Linked DNA regions of Homo sapiens. The protein of the gene in region 2 interacts with the protein of the main gene of each other region in a biochemical or structural test. Each region holds a gene or a part of one and is shown on either strand. Other genes may lie near its edges.

What was found.
Region 1: the proteins of UBE2D1 (region 2) and BIRC3 form a complex in vitro, tested with the Homo sapiens proteins (5 studies listed by BioGRID).
Region 3: the proteins of UBE2D1 (region 2) and DTX3L form a complex in vitro, tested with the Homo sapiens proteins (5 studies listed by BioGRID).
Region 4: the proteins of UBE2D1 (region 2) and TRIP12 form a complex in vitro, tested with the Homo sapiens proteins (5 studies listed by BioGRID).

What each region holds. Positions count from the first base shown.
Region 1 is NC_000011.10:102,327,472-102,334,500, reverse strand, and holds part of BIRC3 (baculoviral IAP repeat-containing protein 3), read right to left. Parts: intron 6,450-7,029; coding exon 6,371-6,449; intron 5,605-6,370; coding exon 5,556-5,604; intron 3,503-5,555; coding exon 3,260-3,502; intron 1-3,259. UniProt on the Homo sapiens protein: Multi-functional protein which regulates not only caspases and apoptosis, but also modulates inflammatory signaling and immunity, mitogenic kinase signaling and cell proliferation, as well as cell invasion and metastasis.
Region 2 is NC_000010.11:58,331,162-58,338,015, reverse strand, and holds the start of UBE2D1 (ubiquitin-conjugating enzyme E2 D1), read right to left. Parts: upstream 3,011-6,854; 5' UTR 2,815-3,010; coding exon 2,791-2,814; intron 1-2,790.
Region 3 is NC_000003.12:122,567,337-122,574,365, reverse strand, and holds part of DTX3L (E3 ubiquitin-protein ligase DTX3L), read right to left. Parts: intron 5,878-7,029; coding exon 4,342-5,877; intron 3,912-4,341; coding exon 3,694-3,911; intron 2,689-3,693; coding exon 2,619-2,688; 3' UTR 1-2,618.
Region 4 is NC_000002.12:229,856,007-229,863,035, forward strand, and holds part of TRIP12 (E3 ubiquitin-protein ligase TRIP12), read right to left. Parts: intron 4,526-7,029; coding exon 4,400-4,525; intron 3,569-4,399; coding exon 2,766-3,568; intron 1-2,765. UniProt on the Homo sapiens protein: E3 ubiquitin-protein ligase involved in ubiquitin fusion degradation (UFD) pathway and regulation of DNA repair.

The DNA.
Region 1 (7,029 bases), on a different chromosome or scaffold from region 2:
AAAAAGAAAACAGCAAAAATCAAAAACAACAACCAGAAAATAAAGATGATGCTTAGTCAAAAAGACAAGGCTAAAGACATATTTTGAAAATAATGGAAGCTCTGAGAATAAATGAGAAAAGGGTCAGGAGCTAGAATAGTGTCTGGCACAAAGTTAATGCTCCATAAATATCTGTTGAACAAATGAACAATCAAACCTTAGTTCTATAATTTAAAGAGTAGGAATGAAAAGTAATGGTGAGAGGGGTAGAAGACTTAGAACTTAATATATTTTGTTAAATTATTTCTATTAGCAAAGTAGGGATATATTAGAAAATAAAAATACAAACTTGGTGTTGAAGTATACTAGTTTTTCAATCTAAGATTTATTTTTGTAATTATACGTAACCTAATATAATGCATTCTCTGAAGTTCTTAAGATTTCTAAAATTTAATTGCTAGTAACTGAGAAAAAGTCTCATTTCAAAGTTGTAGACTATATTCTGGTTTGCAAGTTCAGAAGACTTGAGTAGCTGGGATTACCAGGCATACACCATCACAAATACTTTGTTTTAAAAATTTTTTGTAGTGATGGGGTCTCGCCACGTTGTCCAGTCTGGTCTCAAACTCCTGGGCTCAAGCAATCCACCTGCCTCAGCCTCCCAAGGTGTTAGGATTACAGGCATGAGTCACCACATTCAGCCTGAATTAAAACAATTTTTTCTTAAAGTATCATTCTTCCATAAAATTTCTTTTATTATTTATTTATTCATTTTTAAAACAGAGTCTTGCTCTGTCACCCAGGCTGGAGTGCAGCGGTGCGATCTCAGCTCACTGCAACCTCTGCCTCCCAGGTTCAAGCTATTTTTGTACCTGAGCCTCCTGAGTAGTTGCCTTTGAAGCATATTATTAATTTTGTTTTTGCTTTTCTTTCTTTCTTTTTTTTTTTTCTTTTAGAGAGTGTCTCACTCTGTTGCCCAGGCTGGAATGCAGTGGCATATGATCATAGCTCATTGCAGCCTCAACCTCCCTGGGCTCAAGTGGTCCTCCCACCTCAGCCTCCTGAGTAGAGCTGGGACTACAGACACATGCCACCACACCCTGCTAATTTTTATATTTGTTTATACAGACAGGGTTTTGCTATGTTGCCCAGCCTGGTCTTGAACTCCTGGGCTTAAGCGATCTGCCTGCCTCAGCCTCCCAAAGTGCTGTGATTACAGGTGTGAGCCACCACACTCAGCCATATTATTATTTTATTCTGGGAAAAAAAAAATCTTAAATTACCTCTTTATTTATATCCCTACTATTCTTGGGAAACTATAACGTAATCATTAACCTAAATGTGTTTTCATTCACTCACTCACAACACAGACTATATGCAGGCACGATACTAGGTAGTAGAGATATATATATAATGGTGAGGCAGAAACGCTAAGGGCTCTTTTTCACAATGTAAATTATTATATATTGTTGACTTGAAGTCATTTCTGGAGACTTTTCTGATTGTCTTTGAAAGAAATATAAATATTTTATAAGTGGATAGTTTTAGATTTTATGGGGTCTCTCAACAGTTGTGGAGATAAGTGTTCTCTTCTTTGAGCAATTGTTGGCTGATGACAAATGGCTACCACTAAGAAGGCTACAGGAAGGACATGCTTGCCTAATCTTCACAGAGAAAAGAGAATTTGATGAGGCTGGGCAAAGGTTAACCGTGACTGTATTGCTGCTACACTAGTGGTTTATAGACTGAGTAATTCACACTTTGGTGAATGTATGATGCTATATCACTATGGTCTGATAGGTTTGTCTGGGTTGGGTCAGAGAACAAATCCATCTTCATGGGCAGGGTTGGATTTATCCCTAAATGAAGTGGACAATCTGACTGTCAATCATCCTGTGAAGAAATAGATCCCAGATGGCCTTGCACAAGGATAAGGAGAAATCTTTATTCTCCTTCTGAGCTTTATGAATATTGGGGGGGCCTGAATTTTGATAAAGGAAAACATTATTGGGACATTCCTAGTGACTTGTGTAAACTTGCCAAAGCTACACAGAGATGAACCAGAAGCTAGGCAGGGGAGATTTATGAGGATGAGCCCGGGGGCACTAAGAGAGGTCACAGCTAGTTGCAGCTGTAAATCAACATTTGTGATATAATTCCCTTCCGTTTTCCTTAAGTCTCCAGTAAGAGCTTGTTAAAAGTTGCAGTCTGTTTTCAGCTGTGTTGAAGGGACTTATAGGTCTGGTCCATGCTTGGGAAAGGAGAGATCAGCATTTCTTTTTGTCTAGGACAGAATGATGATAGCAGTCAAAACAGCCAGATGAGAATGTATGTGCCCAGAAGAGTTTTTGTGAAGGGCAATAGAGAACATAGTGGATACGTTTAGTATGGAAGGACATGAACAACTTGTCCTAAGAGATTGTGAAACAGTATACTAGGACTTGCCTAAATAATCGACGGATGCTCTGGAAGACTCAGTTCTTGTGTGGACAGGTAGGGGACTTAATAGTAATTTGTGTATTAATGTATAGTCACAGGCTAAGACATGCTTTTATGCTAACATTAAAATTAATAACCATCCAGCCAGGCACGGTGGCTCATGCCTGTAATCCCAGCACTTTGGGAGGCCGAGGCGGGCGGATCACTTGAGGTCAGGAGTTTGAGACCAGTGTGGCCAACATGGAGAAATCCCTTCTCTACTAAAAATACAAAAATTAGCCTGGCATGGTGGCAGGTGCCTGTAATCCCAGCTAAGGGAAGGAGGCACGAGAATTGCTTGAACCCAGGAGGCAGAAGTTGCAGTGAGTTGAGATCATGCCACTGCACTCCAGCATGGGTGACAGAGTAAGACTGTCTCAAAAAAAAATTAATAATTGTCCCTGATCCCACCCTGATTTACTCCAAAGGGGAGTGAGCAACTAGCCTGGGATTAAAAATGTGCCATGATGCAACAAGGATTCCATTTTCAAAGCGTTAAGAAAAAAAAAATGTGCCATGAATGCATAATTGGACACAACGTCAGCTATCCAGAGAAAAAAATATGAATTAAGGAAAAACATGAAAAATACTTTTGTACATCATACATTTTTGACTTATGAGCAACTCAAATATATTTGAATATGAATAAATTTTTCAGCATTTGAATTCAGAATACTAAACATGAAAAAAACCTGACTGGATTGAGTATATTTTCAGATATGCTAGATGAGTATATTTTTCATAACATATAGACTGATATCAAATCCTTATGAAAATAGACTGTATTAATAAATCTACATACTTGATTCTTTTTCCTCAGTTGCTCTTTCTCTCTCCTCTTCCCTTATTTCATCTTCTGCATTGAGTAAGTCTAACACAAGATCATTGACTAGTCTATAATTCTCTCCAGTTGCTAGGATTTTTCTCTGAACTGTCTGTTTTACCAGGCTTCTACTAAAGCCCATTTCCACGGCAGCATTAATCACAGGAGTATTCATCATGATTGCATCTTCTGAATGGTCTTCTCCAGGTTCAAAATGGATAACTATATGGAACAAAGAATTTAACACATATTAGGATAGCCTTATATTTCTTAAAAATTGAAATTTGAAATGAAATCAAAAATTGAAAGGTTTTATAATATTAAAAATGTAAAACCAACAAAATGTATAGGCATTATTTTGTATGAACATTGTTAAATTTAAAATGATATACACGTTCAGTCATTAAATAACAACTTGGAATATTGTACTTAGATGCAAAATACACATTACCTGTCATAACTGGATATACATATGTGAGCAGGAGAAGGAAACAGAATGGCAGGGATTACCTCCCACTAGAATTGAGATTATTTTTCCCTATGTTGAATGAACAAATGAGTTTTCAATCAAGAATAATTCACATATTTTTCAGAGAGGCTATGGTTATAAAATATTGCTTCCTTGGAATTCATTCTCAACAGTGCAATCAGAGTGACTTTTTAAAAACACAAATATGATGTGTCACACTTCTTAAATTCCATCAACAATTCCATTGCTCTTAGGATAAAATCCAAAATAAAGTGTCTTACAAAGTCTCATACAATCTGAACCTTGTTTACCTCTTCAGCCTCATCTCTTGCCACTGAATCATTCACATTCTGCACTCTAGCCCAGAAGTCACAAACTGATGGCTCTAGTGTCAATTCTGCCTGTAGTGCTGACCACTCATACAGCTGGCCTGCTTCCCTGATTTATCTATTAGCAACTCCTACTTCTGGCCATATGGAATTTTGTTCAGTTCTTCAAAGGTGCCTATTCTCCTTTGTCACTTCGGTCTTTCATATGCTGTTCCCTCTGCCTGGAATACTCTTTTCTTCCATTTGTCACTCGGTTAACTCCTACTCTTCCCTTGGATTTTCTGCTAAGACAAGTACTTCCTTTGGAAAGCCTTTTCTGACCCTCCAAGTCTGGGTTAATTGTCCTATATGCACTCTCATATTACACTTTACTTTTGCTGCCATATCCCTTTCTCCTGTCTGTGTATTTGTCTGTTTCCAGTAGATACATGAGACCAGGAGTTATGTTTATCCTGTTCTGTATTCTTTTTTTCCTTTTTTTAAATTATTTTACTTTAAGTTCTAGGGTACATGTGCATAATGTGCAGGTTTGTTACATATGTATACATGTGCCATGTTGGTGTGCTGCACCCGTTAACTCGTCATTTAACATTAGGTGTATCTCCTAATGCTATCCCTCCCACATCCCCCTACCCCACAACAGGCCCTGTGTGTGATGTTCCCCTTCCTATGTCCAAGTGTTCTCATTGTTCAATTCCCAACTATGAGTGAGAACATGCGGTGTTTGGTTTTCTGTTCTTGTGATAGTTTGCTCAGAATGATGGTTTCCAGCTTCATCCATGTCCCTATAAAGGACATGAACTCATCCTTTTTATGGCTGCATAGTATTCCATGGTGTGTATGTGCCACATTTTCTTAATCCAGTCTATCACTGATGGACATTTGGGTTGGCTCTATCCTGTTCTCTATGCTTTCCTCAGAACAGGCGATATACAATATACAATAAATATATACTGAATTGAATTGAACATGAGATAATGGAGTAGAGGGGCTTGTACAAATATTAGCTCTGTTGCATTTTAGGTGTAAGGTGATGTACAAGTCATTTAACCTTTCTGAGCCTCAGCGTCCCTATTTAAAAAGGTGACTAACGTGTTCTATTCTTTCCCTTTCACAGAAAGAATATGTGAGCAATCTAATATCATAGTACATCTGCTCCCACACTGGCCCAAGAACAAGTGTTAGGCTGGATGTATGTAGTTTGTTAAAACTATACATGCCTGAGCCCCACCTTTAGATACTCAGATTTAATTCAGTAGGTCTGAAGTAGAAACTGGAAATCTGTCATATTTTTTAAAGTTCTCCAGGCAACTCTGATATGCACTGAAGTTTGGGAAATACCAACACAGTATATTTGAAAATGCATTCATCGTAAATTATAAATCAATATACAGGTACATTACTATTATCAACTTTCAATATTAACAGTACCAAATGACTCTATTTAAATGCATTCATTATTATCCATTGTACTTACTTGATGACTCTGCATTTTCATCTCCTGGGCTGTCTGATGTGGATAGCAGCTGCAGAAAAAAAAAATATATATATATATATATATATAAATTAAAATAGAAATCTTATCTTACCCATTGCAATGAAAATGACCCAACAGACATATTTTATTCAACTTGTTGCAAACCACTTGCTTACTGGCAAAATAATTTTTTAACCAAAAGCAATATTTCATTTATATTTGATAGTTATTCCCTAGGCCATAAACTAATAGAGTTTCAGTGTGTGTATATAATAACAAAACCCATTTTCATTAAGGCAGGAAACGGACTATATCTTTTCCATAATCCATGTGACAATCAATTTTCCTTTCATCCACAGGTCTTACCTACCCTGGGTCATCCTTTGGGATAAGTTGGACCCTGTATCAGTTTCATTGCTCATGGCTAGGATGGGTTTGACCATCAAACTATTATGTAAGTTATTTGCTTTCTCAAGGTTAGAAAAAGCAATAAAATTCTCTTTCTCAGATCTTTTGAAGGAAAATTTATATAGTGAAACTGTTAAATACTACTATCCCAGTCATTTTTTCTCGAAGTTTGATTTATTGCAACTTGTTTGAAAAACATCACAAGTGTCATTATCAGGAGACTACCATTTATGGATCTATTTTTCTCCAAAGAATAATACTTTCTAAAATCATGTCAGGTTTGATAAGAAAAAGAAAATGTATTTCTAAAACAACTCTTGTCTTTTCACTCAAATAGCACTCTCTGTAATTATCAGAAAGCAATTTCTCTGATGGCAACCAATATTTAAAAAAAGAACTTGCCCTACCTGTTCAAGTAGATGAGGGTAACTGGCTTGAACTTGACGGATGAACTCCTGTCCTTTAATTCTTATCAAGTACTCACACCTAAAATGTAAAGAAAATAAAATTTGAGGGATTATTTATACAAGTGAAATGAAAATGTAATAACATAAATTTCTCATCTCTAGGTGTTTATTCCATTTCAAATCTGGTTGTTTGCCTCAAATCACAGAATCATTTAAGATCATTTATTCTAAACTTAATGTTAGAAGAATAAATACATCCTAGCCCACTGGGAACTGATTCTATTGTATTGCTTTTAAAAAAAAAACTTTTTTTCTAAAACTAACCCATAGTTATCCTATGACAGGATTCAAATTTTTTGTGTGAATTTTTAATTGTTTTGTAAGATGCTTCTCATGACAGTCAACATTTTTCATACAGGTTGAATGTTTTACAAAATTAATATTTTTATATTTGCCAAGATACATTATGCTTCTGCTAATTTTTTTTTTTTTAGACAGAGTCTCGCTCTGTCACCCAGGCTGGAGGGCAGTGGGATGATCTCAGTTCACTGTAACCTCTGCCTCCCAGGTTCAAGTGATTCTGGTGCCTCAGCCTCCCGAGTAGCTGAGCTTGCAGGTGCCTGCCACCATGGCCGGCTAATTTTTGCATTTTTAGTGGA
Region 2 (6,854 bases):
AATCAGCGGGGCATGGCAGCATGCGCCTGTAGTCCCAGCTACTCAGGAGGCTGAGGCAGGAGAATTGCTTGAACCCAGGAGGCAGAGGTTGCAGTGAGCCGAGATCATGCCACTGCACTCCAGCCTGGGAAACATAGCAAGACTCCATCTCAAAAAAAAAAAGAGATTATCTTTGGACAAAGCACTCCTCCACTCCAGGCCTCTGGATCCTTCCTTGAATAAGGACAGGCCAGAACATCAGTGGTCCTCAGTCTTCTTTCCACCCCAACCGATCTGAGGGATTCAACATCTCTCCATTTATAGAAGTGATGACAGTCTGAAAACGTCCCACAGGTGATTCTAAGACACTGCCTTAGAAGCTGTTCCCCTGCTTGTACCCTCTACTACACTACAGCAGACTTATCTGAGGTTCCACACAACTCTATGGCCTGCCACCATCTATAGGTACAGGAAAATTATATTAATACTTCAGTGAGCTTAAGAAGAAAGGCCAAAAGTTAGTATACATCTTCATTTGTTGGAACATGAAAGATTCAAATAAGAATTCTATACTGATGACATCAAAGAAGATGGTGTAACTGTTCATACGGCAGGCGGCACATCTAACCTAGAATTGGCTTCTAATCAAGGAGGTAGGTAAAGGAGGAGGAAAAGTAGGGAATCAATCAAAATAATCACCCCTAAGGTTTGAGGGATTGGTCTGAATGTGTGATTAATGGAAAGAAGATTTGTGTAAGTCGATTTTCCTGATATCAGAAAGGGAAGCCAAAAATGAACACACAGAGATGTGATGGTGTGTCATCCCCAATTTCTTTTCCAAAATATCAATTTGTCACATGTTTGATATCAATTCTATGTAAGTAATTTTTTTTTTTACTCAACAATTCTATAAACTAATAACCAATAAATACTAAAAAGATTTGGACACACGCCATATTATAAATATAAATCAAATACACTAGTTCAGCATGGTGATTGATGAGAACTGCCAAGGGTGGTATTTACAAATAATGTTCATATTTCTTTGAATATCCACTTACTGTGGACAAATTATACAGCTTAAGCTATTGTTAGTTGGGTATGGTGACTTGTGTCTGTAATCCCAGACTTTCTGGAGGCCAGGAGTTCAAGATCAGCATGGGCAATATAGTGAGATCCCCATCTCTTAAAAAAACACAATGAAATTTAAAAAGCTCTTGTATGTGCAAAATCATGTGAAAAATTCTCACAACTAGGAAAGAAGGAAATAGAATTTGAAAACTTCCTTGGAAGATGTGCATTTTCTGATCCAAATGTGAACCAATATTACTTCGTCATTAATAAGTATGCAAGGTATGGTAAAGATGCTAAGGCTTCAAAATTAGGGTATTTATATAAAACAATGTGTAATTGCGCTACCTTCAAACAAGAAAACATTATTACTTAATAAATGCTGATGCTGATTGTTAACTGTATGTTTTACAATGAGATGACCTTTAAATGGCACAAAAAATAACAGGTGATCCACAGATTTAGAATTTGAAAATAAAAAACTGGCAGGCTCTAAAAGTTGCTGTCCTCTGTACCTAAAGATGTCACCAGTGGCGAGTCAGAATGCAATGCGTACGTCACTATCACTGCTCTAACATATACTATTGCTATAATGGACTCCTGGTCAAAAAAGTGGATAAAAATGTGGGCATCAATTTCTTCTGAAACAACTACAAAATACACTGTCCATTGTTGCTTAACTTAGTGAAAAGCACTCCCTATTTAACAAACACATTCTCAATGTTGCCAGTGTGAACTGTAACTGTAAAACCTAAAACTTGGGTCAGTACACAGACCAACAAGAAATAAAAATGAACAGAAAGAAATGCCCGAATCTGAATTCTGAAGGATGTTCGCATCTGAAATGGTGGCAATAAATACTGTGAAAAAAAGACGATTCCATACACAGGGTTGAGATGGGTAAACAGTTGTTGGATGAAGATATATATTTCTTCCTCATTCTATACCCATGTGTCAAAGCATCAAAACAATTTATTTGCGACAGTTTATGTTGTGTCTCGAACTTTACATCTAAGTTTATCATGAGGGGGAAAAAAACCTGTTTGGCTTGACTCACCGTGAATCACAGCCAGGAGGTCATCTTGTTGTGTATCAGCAACTATGTTTTCGCTACAGCTATGTGACCTGAAGTGGCAGCAGCAGAGGCACCAAAATAGAAGGGGCAGGAGCCTTCTCCTGACTTCTTGGCCGCAAATGGGCTTTCCAGCCCATTCGGGCAACTGAGCAAGAGCCAACCGCAGAGGAGAGAAAGAACCAACCCGACAGCTCCGCGGAGAAAGGCTGCAGGCCCACCCCACCTTCCTTGCCCTCCCGGGGAGGCCGGGTAAGCAAGAACATAAAAGAGGACAGGCTTAAGAAACAGCCTGGAGAAAACACAGCATGACAGGGGTCAAAACTAGCCCCATGGAGGGCAAAACCCGGCCGTGACCGTGAAGCACAGATTTCGGGACGGTCTGGACGCGCAAGAGGCTCTCTACCCTGGGGCTCCGGGAGCGGCTCCGGCGCGAACGCGCGCGGGCCCCCAGCCTTCAAGCTCCTCCGGCCGCCTGGGACCTGACCCTGCTCCCACCTCACCTGTCCGATGCCCGCTGGCCCGGCCCGAGCCTTCAGCTCCCTGCCCGCACCCCGGCCCACCCTTCCATCCCTTGCTCTCCCCGCATGTCTCTCGGGACCACTGGCCGAGTCAGCGTGGGCAGGGGGCCGCTGCCCCGCAGCCCCAGGCCCGGCCCCGGCACTCACTTTCTGAATCCTCTTCAGCGCCATGGGTCAGGGATGGCGGTGGGGACACCGGCCGGCAGGGGTCGGCTGCGGGGCTCAGGGGCGTGGGTCGTCGCGGGTTGGGCTCGCTGGCAGCTAGGCTGGCTCCGCGCGGTGGGTCCCCGGTTAGCCGCTCCCTGGCTCGCTCCGGGCGCCGGTCCCTGCTCCGTGTGCGCCCGAGCGCGAGTGTGCGCGAGTGTGCGGGCGGGGACGCCGGCGAGACTCTTTTGTTTCCGCTTTTGCTTCTGGGAAGGAGCCTGCGCCCTCCCCGCCGCGCCCCGCCCCGCCTGGCACACTGGGAAGTGTAGTTCCAGCCCTGTCCTCGGCTGCAGGCCCCCGGACGCTGCCAGGTAACTTACTGCTGACCTCAGCCAGGCAGCTTAAGGTGAGAGCTGCCGGGGGCTGGAATTAGCCTCTACAGTCTCATTTAGAGCAAATTGCTGAACCTGGGGCTGCGCATCTGTAAAATGGGGATAACAAATGAGCTCCTAACGCACATAAAGGAATTTCTAAATCATCAGTTAGTAATTCCTTATCCAATAGGTGCCACAGCTGGTTTTATTATTTTTACCTTTAAAGATTTCACTGTCTTTTCTCAAATATATGGATTGTCTCACTCACCCTGCACACATGCACAAACTCATATCAGACCCCCTACTTACCTCCTTGGTTCTTATTGCAGAGGAAAAAGGTGTCTCTTCTGTCCAATGTGCAAATCTTCCTTGTCTGAGTGCATTGTCTGCTCGTAGGTATGCCCCTCCCATAAATTACCCACTTCGAACACCGAGTTCTGGGCTCTCACTCCCATCATTGGTTCCTTCCCTTCCGTTGACAGTCCCTGACCAATAGTCAACTCACGCTCCCCACTCTCCAATTCCTATGCACTTGTGTACCCATTAAAACTTGGCTTCTTGGCCAAGATGAGATTTGGGTGGGGACACAGCCAAACCATATCACTCAGGGATATAAAGATGGCAACAAATAGACACTGTGGACTACTAGAGAGGGGACCGAGGGAGCAAAGGTTGAAAAACTGTTGGGTACTATTGTCAGTACCTGGGTGATAAAATCATTCATACCACAAATGTCAGCATCACACAGCATACCCAGGTAGCAAACTTGCATATGTGGCCTCTAAATCTAAAATAAAAGTTGAAAAACAAAAACAAACAAACAAAAACAGAATCTTGAGCCCCACTCCAGACATGCTACATCACACTTTGCAGTTTAATAAGACTCCTAGGTGATTCAGATGAACATTAGGGTTTGAGAAGCACTATGCTGGAAGGCATAAGAGGAGATCCTAAAAATGCAGATTTCCTTTAAAGGATTTAATTTAGCAGTAAGTTTTGGGTGAAGCTCTGGAGTCTAAACTTTAGAACAAACTTCCCAGGAAGTTAGGATGCAGGTATCTGAGGACACTTTTGAGAATCTCCACCTTGAGCAAATCTTCAAATCCTTCTAAGCCTCAATTTCCTCACCCATAACTAATGCAATAAATGTTGTATTTGTTTAAAGGGAATAGAGCTGAAACTTTTGGTGCCCTTCTAACTCAAAGGTCTATGATTTGCACAAAAAATGGTGATTTTTTTCTCTTCTTTATAAATAGAAAGAAACCTAAAAAGTAAGCTTACAAGATTATTTTTGTCTTTCCTAGGGCAGTTTACCTCCCAACAAAAGAGAAATTAACACTTATTAAAAAAATCTACGTTGGTATCTTGCAATAATAGTTTACACTTTAAGATTGCTTTAAATGGGCTGGGCACAGTGGCTCACGCGTGTAATTCCAGCACTTTTGGAGGCCAAGGCAGGTGGATCACCTGAGGTCAGAAGTTCGAGACCAGCCTGGTCAACATGGTGAAACTCCTTCTCTACCAAAAATTCAAAAATTAGCCAGGCGTGTTGGCACATGTCTGTAATCCTAGCTACTTGGGAGGCTGAGGCAGGAAAATCGCTAGAACCTGGGAGGCAGCAGTTTTACTGAGCCGAGATGGAGCCATTGCACTCCCGCCTGGGTGACAGAGTGAGACTCCATCTCAAAAAAAAAAAATTGCTTTAAGCTTTTCAAAACATTTCACACACATTTTTGCAACATGCAAATACATGTGCAACATATAGTAGTTCAGTGTGTTATTTAATCTCCTACTCTTTCTCCCAGGATGTAGTTTCAAAACATAGTTTGTGATCAACTGCATAACTAATTCAAAAATGTTACTTAATGCTTACTATATGCCAGGCACTGAAGACACATGATAAAGAAAATAGACAAGATCCCTACTCACAAGCAGAACATCAAAATCCTATGGGGTGGGGAGGAGGGTACAAGACTTGTTAAAAATGCAGATTTCTAGGCATCAGGCCACACTGTCAATAAATAATCCTTGCCCTCTGAATTATCTCTGTTTGGGATATTATACTGCACTAGGTGGTAAAATATATGCAAAAGAAAGATTATATTTGGTCTTACCTTCCATAAACTTAAAATCTTCATGGTAGGAAGATAAATGCATAAAACAAATAAGTAGCAATGCAAGATATTCATTCATTCAGTCAGTCAGTCAGTCATGCAGACAACAGCAACAACAAATTTCAGGAAAATTTCCTTAAAGCAAAACAAATGGTGCAGAGGATAAGGGCTAAAGATGTTCAAAAGGGCATTGCCATGGACGGAGAGTAAGGGAAACTTTGTAGAGACAATAGAACTTGAATGCAAGACGCATTTGGAAAAGCAAAAGAATAGGTGAAGAACTTCCAATCGTAAGGAAATGCATGTGGAATGGACATAAGTATGAAATGCTCAACATGGAGGCCAAGCAAGGAAATACAACTAAGTCCAATGGTTGAGATCAGATAGTGAAGGACATTGACTGTTAGTCTTAGAAACATGAAATTGAGCTTAAATGCAACAAGAGGTTGTGTATCAGGAGAGTATTATTGTGACAGTGATGCATTAAATAGACAATTAGTCTAGTGGAGGGACATGGAATGAGGACAGAATCAGGAAAGGGAAACAAGTTCAATTACTATTGCAGTATTTAGGACCAAAATAATAAGGGCCTGCCTGTACAAGGTTGATAGCACTAGAAACCCAAAGAAGAACTTTTTGAGAAAAAAAAAAAAAAAAGCCATGGAACTTTGTTGCAATTACATACAGAAGTAGAAAAATAGAAGAGTAAATATGAACTCTAAATTTATGAGTGGTGGATTGAGTTAAAGGTGTTAACATTGATAAGCTTTTGGAGGGGAGAATGGTAAACCGAGCTTAAGACATACACATATATGAAATGTATGTGGTATTCAAGTGGAACTTCCCTAGTGGTAGGTAGAGATATGGGGCTGAGAATATGGATATGAGAGCAATCATGTGAGAGAATGATTTTGAAACCGTAAGATACAAATTGCTTCCCAAAGAGGAAAGGGGAAGACAGAGAAAAGAGAAGGCACTAGAAAATGGGCTTTGGGGAGCAGCAACAGTGAAGACCTATGAGGAAAAAGATGGGTCATGGGTGGGAAAGTAAGTGGAATACCAAGAGTGTTTTGTGTAGTGGCAGCAAAGAAAAGTGAGAGCTTTAGGTAGGAAAATAGCTTCAAAAAGATGTATTTTGCAACAGGGATCTAAGGGAATAAGGAACAGGAAATGGATATCAGAATTAGTGAGGTGCTACCTTCAAGGATAGTGTTTAAGAAGGGTGATGGGTAAATAAGACATAGTGAAAGATAAATGGGTAAATTAAATGGAGTCAAGCAGTGCTTATCACACTTTGGAAAATGCTGGGGAGGAAGGGGCATGAGATAGGAACTAAAAGAGGGCCTGTGATTTTTCCAAATGTGATCTCTGCATGCTTGAAGGTAGATGTGAAAGAGTTAGTGGGTCTATTATGTATTGCTTCAAAGCAAATTACCCTAACCCATAGCAGCTTAAATCAACAATCAACATTTATCATCTCACATAGTTTCTGTGGGTCCGGAATTTGTGAGCATCTTAGCCGGGTGGTTCTTCCTTGAGGTCTTTCATAAAGTTGCAGTCAAAATGTCGGCCAGGGTTG
Region 3 (7,029 bases), on a different chromosome or scaffold from region 2:
ACCGTTTAAAAATAAAATTTAGCATGTCATATATTCCTTATAGTAGGCTTATTTCACCTTTTTTCTGTCCAGAGAGAGTATCAGTGAGAAAGATTTTAAGGGTGAAAACATGAATTGGTGGGACTTAGTAAAGAGCTGAAAAACTACTACAATGTGGGCTACGGTTATTATAAAATGATAGAGATGGAAACTAGAGTAAGTTTATTTTGTCTGTTAAACCTGGAAGTGAGCTAGGCATGGTCACTCACGCCTGTAATCCCAACACTTTGGGAGCCCAAGACAGGAGGATCCCTTGAGTCCAGGAGTTCAAGACCAGTCTGGGCAACACAGGGACACCCCATCTCGACCAAAAAAAAAAAAAAAAGCCAGGCATGGTGGTGCACTTCTGTGGTCCCAGCCACTTGAGAGGCTGAGGTGGGAGGATCACTTGGCCCCAGGAGGTTGAGGCTGCAGTGAGTCGTCATTGTGCCACTGCACTCCAGCCTGGGGGACACAGTGAGACCCTGTCTCAAAACAACAACAACAAAAACAAAGCAAAACAAAACAAAAAACACTTGGAAGTGGGGTATACTCAAAAATATAAAATTATCTAGAGAAAAACAATGCTCAGAAATATATAGCATTACTGTGGCAGGGCAAGTGCACCCAATATGGCAGTTTACAAGGAGCAGAAAGCAAAGGCTCAAGTGAGGGGCCTGGTCAGAGTTCAGGCTCCAAGTGTTCTAGAATAAGAAACTCAAGTCAGGCACCGTGGCACATGCCTATAATCCCATCTACTCGAGAGGCCAAGGTTGGGGGATGGCTTGAGCCCAGGAGTTCAAGTCCAGTCTTGATGTCTTCCCTTGAGAGACAGGGCAATATAGTAAGGACTTGTCTCTTAAGGGAAAAAGCAATGAAAGAAAGAAGCTCAGTTTTCCAAATTAGTAGCAAGGACTCCAGAAATGGCTTCCTTACTCCTGCCTCTGCCAAAGATTTAGGAGGCAAATATCCCTCTGCTGGCTTACTAGCAACCTGAGTCAGGCAAACAATTTTATGAAACACTGCTACAGTTTAGTTTGTTTGACCTCCTCCAAATCTCATGTTGAAATTTGATCCTCAGTGTTGGAGGTGAAGCCTAACGGGAGGGGTCTGGGTCATGGGGGCAGATTCCCCCATGAATGGCTTGGTGCTGTTCTCATGGGAGTGACTCACTCTTAGTTCCTGAAGAACTGCTTGTTAAAAAGAGCCTGGCACCTCCCCGACACCTCTCTCTCTCACTTCCTCTCTGTCATTTGATTTCTGCACACACTGGCTGCCCTTTGCTATGAATGGAAGCAGCCTGAGGCTTTCACCGGATGCCCAACCTTCTAGCCAGCAAAATTGTGAGCCAAACAAACCTTTTTCTTTATCAATTACCCAGTCTCAGGTGTTCTTTTATAGCAACACAAACAGACTAAGACAGGCACCAACTATATACTAGGCTCTTGGTCATTAAAAATGATAGTCTTGTGTGGGTGTGGTGGCTCATGCCTGTAATTCCAGCACTTTGGGAGGCCAAGGCAGGAGGATCATTTGAGCTCAGGAGTTTGAAACCAGCCTGGCCAACATGGCAAAACCCCGTCTCTACTAAAAATACAAAAAATTAGCCGGGTGTGGAGGCACACACCTGTAATCCCAGCTACTCAGGAGGCTGAGGCAGGAGAATCGCTTGAACCCGGGAAGTGGAGGTTGCAGTGAGCCAAGATCACACCACTGCATTCCAGCCTGGGTGACAGAGTGAGACTCCATCTCAAATAATAATAATAATAGTCTTATTCCATTTATTACCAATGCTTGCCCAATCTCTACTCATGGCCACTTTTCTTACCATGAGTAAGAAAGCAGAATGTGGGTCTTTAATTTTTCACAACCAACCCTTTTTCCTCCCATTTACAATAGAATTTCACTTTCACAGGTAGAGATGAAGGGGAAAACACACAAAAAACCAAAGAACCACCCCAGAGATGGCAATGAAAAAGAGATCAATTGGCAGCCGAGAGTCCAACTGAAGGACACAGAAGATTATTTCGGACCCACCTCTAACCCCAGTGATGACACAAGAGGGATGACACCTTTGCAGCAGATTTTACACAGATTTGGGGGGCTTTTGTCTTCCATAAAAAGTATCACTCCAGGGCTGGGCGCGGTGGCTCACGCCTATAATCCCAACACTTTGGAAGGCTGAGGCGGGCGGATCACGAGGTCAGGAGATCGAGACCATCCTGGCTAACACAGTGAAACCCTGTCTCTACTAAAAATACAAAAACAAAAATTAGCCGGGCATGGTGGTGGGCGCCTGTAGTCCCAGCTACTCGGGAGGCTGAGGTAGGAGAATGGCATGAACCTGGGAGGCGGAGCTTGCAGTGAGCCGAGATCATGCCACTGCACTCCAGCGCGAGCGACAGAGCAGACTCCGTCTCAAAAAAAAAAGTATCACTCCAGAAATGACAGACTAGCAGATTGTTATTCTTATACAAACCATTTCTTGAGAAGAAAAATTTCAAAGTCCTTTCTACATAAGGATTTAGACTGGCATTAAATCAGCCTCCTAAAATATATTTTTTTGAAAGCTTGATTTAAGACATCTTCCAGCAGTTGTCTTACTCAATTCCTTTGGCTTTCAGCTCCTCTTTGACACGTTTCAGGTAAGAAGGATCAGGATAGCCATACCTGAAGAAACAAAAATTCCTTTAGTGTCACCACAAATTGTTCGGATATGTGCAATAGATATCCAGCATTTAAGGATTTAATTAATATCCAGTGTTGCAAACATTCACAAGTAATCCTGAAGGTGGATGACGTATCATGACTTTTAAATTCGCAGATGCGAGTCATTTCGCTAGCGAGTGAGCCTAGCTGTCTGGCCAGCATCTGCCTTTCAAGCTGGCTTCTACCCTGCCAACTACAAAGTATTAATATGATGTATTTATTACATTTCGCATCAAAGGGCAGGGGGTTTGAGAATCCAAGATGAATAGTAATACGTTGATTTACTTTGAGGCTTCATGTCTATGTTAATTCTTAAAATTTTTCAGTTTATGGTAAGTAGTGACTCTCCTAAAAATATAATAATATACTGTGTTTTAGGGGGGCATCGTAATCACATGCTAGTAGGATTTTCAAATTTAAGGTTTTGGAAAAGTCTCAGGGTATATATTTTTTCTTTAGTGCCAAGGGTCTGAGGAATCCTATTTGGGTTTCATAAAGAACAATTGGATTTCGTATAATACAGTTTCTACCAATAGTCTCCTCACAACTTAGACTTTTTCTAGAATATTATTGGCCAAGTGATTTCAGGTTCTCTGTGGACTGGTGGGGGAAGGGGTGAAAAAGAAAGGTGACCTTAAAAGGAAGCAAAGTGACATTCCGAGCATCTAGCCTTCAGATAGACACAACGCCTCAAATTAAATCAGCTTATATAGTATTCATCTCGGATTCAAAAGCCCCCTGTCCTTTGGTGCAAAATTTAAATAACTCCATAGTACTTTATAGCTGGCAGGGTAGAAGTTGATGGGGACCAATCTTTCTGTCTTTGAGATTACCATCCCCGATCAGCAGCTCTCAAAACACCAATTCCACTGCTATAGAGTCTACTTATATCCACATCCAGAAATTGCCGTATTTCATAATCCCTATACTCTGTTGAGCAGCCATTACATCCCAAAAGGATCTCACATTTCTGGTCCTCCAAACCGGGATGTTTTGTGGTGAATATCATTCCAAGTGATGACATCTGAGACTCCTAATACGCGAGAGTACCCCACTGTAAAAATCAGCTTTTGGTCAAAGGCCCTATAAAGCAGTTTCAAAACCTTCCTTCCTTCCTTATTATCAGGCAAGTATGCAGTTCGCTGTATTCCAGGGTATCTCTTTCCTGGGTTTGGGTGTTCTTCCTGTGTGAGAACAAGAAAATGTCATGTGAAAAGAGTGCCCTGTCTAATTTTTACTATAGGTATAGATGTGTTCATTTGTAGATAAAGCAAATCAAAAGCAAGAAAGGTATTGAAGTTATGCTCATATTCCCAATAACTCATATTTCTCCTCTTTCCTTGAATTCATGCTGGAAACACTGTCCACCTTCCTGATACCCCCATCTCAAGATATAATCTCCACCCACCCTTTCTCTGTCTTAAGAAATAGACACAAAAGGTATTTGAATTACCAGCAAACATTGTGACCTTTACCACTATTTCAGTCCCTTGCACATGACCCTGGAGATAATTCCTTGGGAAATCTATTGTCTAATAGGCAACAGGACAGTCTCTTTTGCCCTGGTAATCGTAGCATAGTGGCAAGAAACCCATGGACTTGAGAAATACTTACTGTTTGTATGCCTGCTTTCATAGAATAAGTAATCACAATGGTGCCAAAGGACTCATAACCTGGAAGTGAGTCTCTTGAAACAGTGAAAACCATGCTTCCCTCTGGCTGATTTCCTTTCTGAATACCATAGGAAGTCTGGCATGTGGGACAGATTGGCTTATATGACATGGCTTTGTTGATACAAGGGGCGCAGAATTCATGCTTGCACTTTGGTAGCACTTTTTTGTTACTAATGGTGTCCATACAGATGACACAGATGCCCTTTTCCTTCTTGTCCAGTTCTGAGGCCTCAGAACTCACAGAGCCCTTGAGTGGCGGAGAAGCTGCTTTGGAATCATCGCTATCAATGTCCATCGGTGTTTCATGACCCTCTTTCAATTTCTTTCCAGCCAATGAAGACATTCCTCCTCCTTTTAGAACATACTGCTTCGCCTTTGCAAGGTGATTTGGCAAACCAGTCAAAGTCATTGACTCTTGATTTAGCACAAAGTGTACATTTGGATGTCTTTTTCTAAAGTCATCAGCAAACTTGGTCTGATGTAAGTGCTTTCTCTCCTTGCCCAAAGACTTCAGTAAAAGAACTTCTCTCATCAACTGACATGAGGCATGTTGAAAGGCATCGATGAAACTTGCATAAGCATGCACAGATAGATCTACCTGCCTGTCCTTGGATTCAAACAGAATGCAGGTTTTCTGACCTTTCTCAGAAACCTTGCTGCAAATGTCATACCTTTTTTCGATCTCTGATATCTCCTGTAGTAATTCAGTTTCTAAAAGTTTATAGTGGGCACTATCAACCTCAATTACATTCATCATGTAATTGGCAGCAAATAGTTTCACAGGTATCTTGACAAAAGCTTCAGAGATTTTTTGTTTGGCAGCTGAAATGTCATCTTGGGTCCCAAGGAGAGTTAATTCGCCTCCTTTCTCCTTTATAAGGAGCTTTGTAAACTGGTGATTCAATTCCTGTTTGAATTTATTTGCCTGCTTACTGTCTGCTAAAGAGACACATTCTTGCTTCAGAGGTTCTGTGTTCTTCTGAAATTCACTAGCAAAAGACTCACGAGCTGCTTCCAGGTCACCTGATCGACTTGAGGTGAAATCTAAACAGACCATATTTGGAGAACTCTCCTGGATTTCAATGTTTACACCAAATCTTTTCTCTATTGAGTTGATTTTATCAGGACAGATATATTTAAAGTATTCAAAGTAAGGCAAGGGAACTTCAAAATAGTTGCTTTTTTGTTCTGCCTTGGTTTCTGGTTCAGAAGGAGAAATGCAGCTGTCCCTCTCCTGCTGACTGAGTGGCTTCCTCTCTGTCATTGAAGGGGAAAATTGTTGTTTCTGCTCACTTTCCAGGAACTGCTCACTCAAAAATTGATGTATTCTTTCAATGTCTTGGAAGTCACCACACACCTTCTCAATTCCATCGTGACCTTCCATTTTTCTGATACTAGGGCACAGTGTGGTTATGTATGCCCTCTGCTCTTTGGAGAACAGGTTACAGTTCAGGTCAGCTGTTACAGTAAGAAAGATCTGAAATTTTAAAAGGAACAGGAACAAATAAAACCTCTCAGCATGCAGGCCTACCATCTTCTCTTCAGGAGAATGCATAGAGACTAGAGAAACAACCACTACATCTTTCCCAAGTGGGGGCAACTTCTTTCAAATCCTATTTATTTATTTATTTATTTATTTATTTATTTATTTATTTCAAGATGGAGTTTCACTCTTGTTACCCAGGCTGGAGTGCAATGGCGCGATCTCAGCTCACTGCAACCTCCGCCTCCCGGGTTCAAGCAATTCTCCTGCCTCAGCCTCCTGAGTAGCTGGGATTATAGGCATGTGCCACCACGCCCGGCTAATTTTGTATCTTTAGTAGAGACGAGGTTTCTCCATGTTGGTCAGGCTAGCCTGGAACTCCTGACCTCAGGTGATCCACCCACCTCAGCCTCCCAAAGTGCTGGGATTACAGACATGTGCCACCGTGCCTGGTCTCAAATCCTTTTTAGAGGATACAGCACGCTACATCCCAGAGGTTCTCAGCCCTGTCTGCATATAAGACTCACCTGGCGAATTCAGGGAAAAACAAACCAGCCAAAGCCCAAGCACATCCCCAGAGATTCTGATGTTAACTAATCTGCAGTGGAGCCTGGGCATGAGCATTTCTAAAAGCTCCATGGCCAAGAGATCCGTGTTCTACAACTGCCACTAGCTGTTTGATCTTGGGAACAGCAGTCAAGGGAAGGCACCTGTGCTCTCTGGGCAAGTTGTTGTGGCCCTCACAAAAGTTTGTGAACTTGGAAGGGAGCCATAAAACTGAGGGCAATGGCTTTTCCTATTACTATTTTTTCTCTTCTTCACTCTTCCTCCTTTATTCTTGTTTCAACTAAACACTCGACTGCATGCAAAGTTGTGGACCCTTCTAAACCCTGGCCTTTAGAAGCTCAAATATAAGACACGCCAGGTTAAGATAAAAAGGACAGAGACCAATTGACTGTAATATAAAAGCAAAATTCCTAATGTTTTGTTCCTTCTCAAGGACTTTGCATGTTAAGATCCTTCCTCTAGATCTTCAAAATGTTTCCTGAATCCAGCCATTTCTCACACCTCCATCAAGGCCACCAAAGTGCATGCCATTATCATCTTTCACCTGGCGCACTGCAACCCCTCCTAACCAGGCTCTAA
Region 4 (7,029 bases), on a different chromosome or scaffold from region 2:
TCCAGCCTGGGTAATACAGCAAGACTCTGTCTCAGAAAAAAAAAAAAAAAAGTGTATCCTAAAGCACCATTTTTTTTAAAAGAATATGTAACTGCATATGTAAAATACCTGGTACTTATTTTATGCTACACAAACGCTGGTTCCATTCTCTTGTTTCAACAGCTTAGGCTACGATGAGAGATCAGAACTGGGATAGTGGCAGTGAAAACGGAAAAGTGATTTAATAGTGACAACAGAACACAGATACTGTGCAAGTGAATGAAATAATGGTGAAATGAGTTTTAAAATACTAAATTAGTTTGTGACTATGTGCTGAGCAGGCTTAATGGAATTATCTGGATTGGTTTTATCAAACCAGCAGCAAAATGACACTGCCAAAACTCTTGGTGTTTCCTGATTGAAACACCAAGGAGAAAATCCCACTGATTAGCCACTGGTAGAGTTGGGTTTTCTTTTAAAAATCAAGTTAACAGACTATATAAAGAAAAGAAAGCTGATCTCTACAAAGGACCAAGGCCATGACACTCAAGTACAATCTGCTATTGCCTGGCCCTAGAACCCTCCTACACATAAGAGATGAGTTCTTCAAGTGAGGCAGACTGGAAGGCAGAAGGGGAAGTGAATCCTAAGCAGCTTGCTGTAAACTCAACCTGGCTCACTGGCTGTGAATATTACATAGCAGGACTGACAGACACAAAACACAGGGAGGAAAGGCAGCATAAAAGCTGACATATGTAACTCCAATTATCAATAAAGCATTGGAAGGACAAATAGTTGGTTGTCCTTTTAACTTGGACCTTTTTTTCCTTCTCACTTCAAGATACTGATCTAGCCTATCTTAATCCTTTAAACTTAAAACATTTTATACAGATGTTCTGCATATTTAAAATACCAAAACAGAACAAAGTTCAATCTAAAAGTAAAATATGTTACTTCACAATAACCTATCATACAGGTTAAACATAAAATTTTTTATATAGTACCTACTATTAATAGTATTGTCATTTCAGGTAATATGTGAATCAACCAAAAGTAGTTTTAGACTGCAGTGTTAAATTAAACAGAGCTAATAGTTCTGATTCAATTTTAAGTTAGGCTGATTCAATATGAGCTATACTTTGACAAGAATGCTAGTAGACACTATATACAATCTTTTTAAACCAAGAAAACATTATAGCCCTACCCAAATGTAGATCTAAAATCCATCAGAGAAGAAAAGATGCTTAAAAGCAAGCTTCCTAATTAGGTATTATAAAATTAAAATGCTTTTAAAAATTGTAGAGATAAGTGCTTTATTATCCTATTTGTCCTTTATAGGTTTCTGAAATAGAAATAAGGAAAGAAGCCTGGGCACAGTGGCTCACACTTATAATCCCAACACTTTGGGAGGCTGGGACAGGTGGATCACTTGTCCCAGTTCAAGACCAGCCTGACCAACATGGTGAAACTCCCTCTCTACTAAAAATACAAAAATTAGCTGGGTGTGATGGCGCACACTTGTAATCTCAGCTACTCAGGAGAGGCTGAGACAGGAGAATTGCTTGAACCCAGGAGGTGGAGGTTGCAGTGAGCCAAGATCGTACCACTCACACCACTACTCCATCCTGGGCAACAGAGTGAGACTCTGTCTCAAAAAAAAAAAAGAAGGGAGGAAAGAAAAGAAAGACACTAGCATTCCCCAGATGAGCAGCTGGTTCCCTGAAGAAGTCTTTTGGTAAAGAGAGAGGGAGAAGAGTTCCTGGATATCTCCAAAACTGACTCATGAAGGAATGCACATAACGCTATGTTTCTTCCATCTACTTTCTGTTTCTTTGCTTGAATGTATTCTCAAAACACAAATTCTTTCTACTCCACTGTAAACTTTTAGAGAGCAATATTCTTACTCACTTAGGACACAGAGTAGTGTATATAAGAGTAGTGAAACATAAGTAGTATTCATCTTTAGACAAAACTCCTTAAAAGACTGTGAGATATTACATATGAAAAAGTTTAATTTACATTGAGGTATATTTATAGTAATAACTTAATTCACTGTATCTACACATCAAGAATATCTCATATAAAAAAATATATTTGGCCAGGCATGGTAGCTCACACCTGTAATCCCCACACTTTGGGAGGCCGAGGTGAGCAGATCACTTGAGGTCAGAAGTTTGAGACCAACGTGGCCAACACAGTGAAACCCCATCTCTACTAAAAACACAAAAATTACCCAGGCATGGTGTGCACACTTGTAATCCCAGTTACTCTGGAGGCCAAGGCAAGAGGATTGCTTAAGCCCAGGAGGCGGAGGTTGCAGTGAGCCGAGACTGCGCCACTGCACTCCAGCCTAGGCGACAGAGTGAGACTCCATCTAAAAAAACATATATATATTTGATCTCTGATCATGGCAACTCATAACTAAAAAGAACTCCTAACTAAATGATAATTTTGTATGTGGTATAGAAGAAAATCCAACTTTATGTCCCATCCTGATATTAGGAAATCAGTGAAGTAGGAGATGCCGCGAGGACCAATAAAGACACAGACACTAAAATGTGATGGTTTCGTAATAATAGGAAGGTAGTATTCCTTACCTGTCTCAACAAAACTAAATGTAGTAGCACTTACTACATGCTGTTATGTACTTAATTACACAGACAGTAATACATCTAAGATTATCTAAGACTGGGGGGAAAAAACCCTTAACTTTAAAGCATAATTGCTTTTGACAAACCAAGAGAAACTTTCTTTAATTAAAGAAAAATACCTTTTTGTAAACTTACTTGCTAATTTGGCCTGTAATCCAGAAGGTCCAGGTTTTGATGTCTCTGACTTAGAAGACCCTGGAAGAGACAGTTTTGTTTTAGGAAGGCTAACTTTAGGGCTGAAACGAGCAGCCCAATCAAATTTTGAAGAGCCACCAGTTTTACTCTGTTCCTTTTCCCTGCTACTTCTTCTGGGGCTGGGACTGGACGCTGAACGGGAACGCCTGGCCTTGTTCTGATCTTTTCCTTGTTTCACTCTGGCACCTGGTGGTACAGTGGAGGAGGCCGAGGCTACAGCAGAAGACGAGGAGGAAGTAGAGGCAGCAGAAGAAGAATCAGTGATGGTGCTACACCCAGCTTTGGCTGAGGTGGCTGATTTTGAAGCCAGCTTGGTAGGTTTCGCAGATCTCTCTTCTGCACCAGTTGATTCAGACCCGGAGCCACTCTTTACACAAGAACTCTCTGTCCTTTTTCTTTTCTGACTCCGTGAACCGCCAGTGGCCCCACTCTTCCTGGTATGAGCCTTGCTTGTTGATGGTGATTGTGCAGATTTCAGTTGTTGCTCCTGGTCTAAATGTCTCTTCTTTGACTTACTATGTGGCTTATTTGTTTCTGAGGGAGATTCAGTATGCTGAAGTGCTTTTGGTTTTTTTGCAGAGCTAGGAGAATTGGTCCTGTTGTAGTCTGGACTAGCACTGCGCTTCACTCCTCGAGAATTGTCTTTCTTAGGCACCTGCCCCGTTTTTTGTCTTTCTGAAGTATTGGCTCTGTCTGGATCCTCTGGTTGTGGAACTATCACAGCAGATGATGAACTGCAGCTTCTAAGAGGTTAGATAAGAAAACAGTTAATATCAGCCTGTCATAATTACAACTGTCATATATAATGCTTTCAAAAAATAAAGTATGAATATGTTCCTACTAAGTCCAGTATTAAACATAGGTTTTCAGAAGGTTCAAATCTGTAAAACGAAATAAAAGAACAAAACAAAAGCAGATGTGACTTTGGATACTAAAATATCTGATTAAAAGATAAGGGTGTTCTTTAGCCCAAAGATTACTGACACTAACACTCGTAATCACAAAACAAGAATTAAGATTACAAGAAAAACAACACTTAATTGTTCGGAACCAGAGGAAGCCAGAATATTGATGCCCTATTCACAAGCACAACTGCTTTGTCAAAGCTTAGAAGAAATAAGCATTAACATACGCACTTTCAAAATGAAGGTTAGAGATTTTTATATTGTAGTACTATCAAATCTTCAAAGTTAACATTGCTTTCCAAAGTCTCTTAACAATTAAATCTTAAGAATCACTGACTTAAACCTAAACTATGGCTCTGACAATAAAAACTAAAAAAAAGATTAAAAAATAAAAAGAAATAAAAAATGGCCATAATGGTTTGTTAAGCAAAGGGGGAATCTTACGGCTCTCCAAACAAAAATATCATTTTATCATTGACAAACTCACTGTCTAGGGTATACTGCACTAATCACTGCAAAGGTGATAAACTGTCAATCCTAAAAGTTACTTAGAGAATAATGAAAATATGTATCAAAACGTTTTGGAATAACCTCAAGTTTTAACATTATGCAATGATTTGAATGCAAATAATTCTGCCTTGAAAATGTATAAGCAACATGAAGATTTACCTTTTAGAAAGGTGTCCCCTTGACAGTTCAGAAGTAGTATTAGACTGCACTTTGGGTGCCTTAGAATTAGATTTTCTACTCTCAGGAGGGCTATATCCCTTATGTTTTGCCTGCCCTAAATGTGACCTGTCAGCAGAAAATCAAAACAGAAATCTATCAGGAAACTGAGATGCAAATACAATACTGAAAATGAAATATTTTTATATATTTCTTAAAGCTTCCCACAATTCATTGTTGACCCTACCCTTTTTCCAAATATTTATAAATTTTAATTATTATTCTACTAAATAATCTGGCAAAAAGAAATTGCCTCTCAGAACCACCCCCGCCCCGCAATACCGAAGAGTTTATTATCACCAGTAGTCATAATTGCACAGCGTTGTTAAGGTTGCTTAAGCAGTAACACATTTTTCAGCAATTTTAGTGCAGATATTCAAATATGCTACATTTTAACAAAAAGCAAATTTAGACTTTAGATCTAAACACACTTTTAATACATAATGTGACTGTAATGGCTTTAAAAGTTTACGGAAAAGACAATTGATGATTCCCACACTGATACCGATTTCCAATTTGTACTTAAAATTCAGGTAAACACAGCAAATGCAGAGACAGACGAACCAATTCTCAAACTGATTTTACACAGAAAATCATTTCAAGCACTAAACAATAAATAAACCTACATGAAATCAACATAGTGATACTTGCTAAAACTTTAAAGTACTTGTCAACAGAAAGAACACAAAAAAGTCCTGGAGAAATATGGAATTTACCACAAAAGTTCCAAAAAACATTCAAATAATTCCATGATTGATATGGTGCATCATATTTACAATAAATCAAATCCTTATGCCAGCACTATTCTAAAAGCAAGTTTGAGGAACATGAAAAAACTGTTTTCAGTTAGATTATTTTTTAGACCTTGGGGAATGGTTACATGAGATTTACATAAGCAATAAAAAACAAACACATGTTGATATCCAGAAAACTGCTGCCATTCGGGTGAGATATTAATGTAACAAATGCAATTTATGTAATTCATAGCTGATATCCACTTTCCACATAAGAGCATATACCAATGAAAATCTAGAAAAAAGTTTCATTAATACCAAATTTACTTGTTAAAAAAAAGTTTAAGGCTTTTATTCCAAACACCATCTCAAAAGAACTTAGAAATGAGTCACTGAAAATCTCACAAAATAATTCTAACTCAATCTGTAAGGATGCCATAAATTTCTTAAGATATCATACAAGTACAACCATCTGTTCCAAAAGAGGACCTAAGGTTTCTCTTTTCTGTATCACTTCTTCTTCCATCTTTCCAGAATTCATGAAAAGAGTCTTAAAAGAAGGTAAGAAATTAGCTTCTTAAGAAAGGAAATAGTTCCTGGATCCCTCATATCATTTTTGTTTTTAAGGTTCTAATCTGAAAGTAATAATATGTTCTAAAGACTTATTAGAATAGATGAATTTCTTAAAAAAAAATAACAAAAAAACAAAACTCTAGGTGAGCCTTTCAAGTGTTATTAGTCTTCACTTTTAGTAATGAAAGGACACATATACTTCAAGAAGCATATTTTCTAAAGTTGTAGCTAAGCTGAACTTTGTAAGATTTTTTATACATTGTGTTTTTGTTGTTGTTGTTGTTATTTTTTATTTTTTGGTGTTTCAGACAGGGTTTTGCTCTATCGCCCAGGCTGGAGTGCAGCGACACTATCTCGGCTCACTGCAACCTCCGCCTCCCAGGATCATGTGATTTTCCTGCCTTGTATATATTGTGATTTAATTTTAATTTTTCCTAGATATTCTCCCATTGCAGACTAAAATTTTGCTTTAACCAATGAGTTTATTAGAGATTTAATTTCTAAGAGTTGCTTTTGTTTTTGTTATATTTCTACTAACAGATCTCAGAGTTCAACTCTTTTTTCTTCAGAAATGAGACTATTTTTCAAATCATTCCATAGTTATTCTAAAAAAGAGGTGTAACGTTCTGTTTTTGGGGTGTGGAATTTAACAGCTACAGGAAATATAAATTATGTCATTCAGGTCCTCTACATTCTTATTTTCTTAAAGATCGTTGCAGACTGATGTTTTAATTAAATCACGTTTTCTACTTTATTTCATTTTAAAATTTAAAATATAGCTTGTTGCATTCCTTGATAATTAAACAACTCATTCTGAAAGAAAACTACATACATTCAAAGCTAGACAACTTTGTGAAAAATAAATGCCCAAAACAATTAAAAATTATGATTCATTCCATTTGTCATCAGAAACCGGCCCATATGAAACTAAAGGTGAGGTCTGGGGCAGCAGCCCTCCTCTTTTTAACTCAAATAAATTGTTCTGTTGACTTTTATATAGCTTATGTTAGATCCACCTAATTCTACTCCTGTGTTATTTCTCATGCCCTTACTAATACCTTCAATGAACTTAAGAACTTAGCATGTAAACTCTCTATATTATACCACAAAAAGTAAACAGTATTCAAATCATTTAGAAAACCAAGGCTCACAAAACTGGCTTAAATTCAGCAATGCCCAGCAGGGCACGGTGGCTCATGCCTGTAATCCCAGCACTTTGGGAGACAGAGGCGGATGTGTCATGAGGTCAGGAGTTCAAGACCAGCC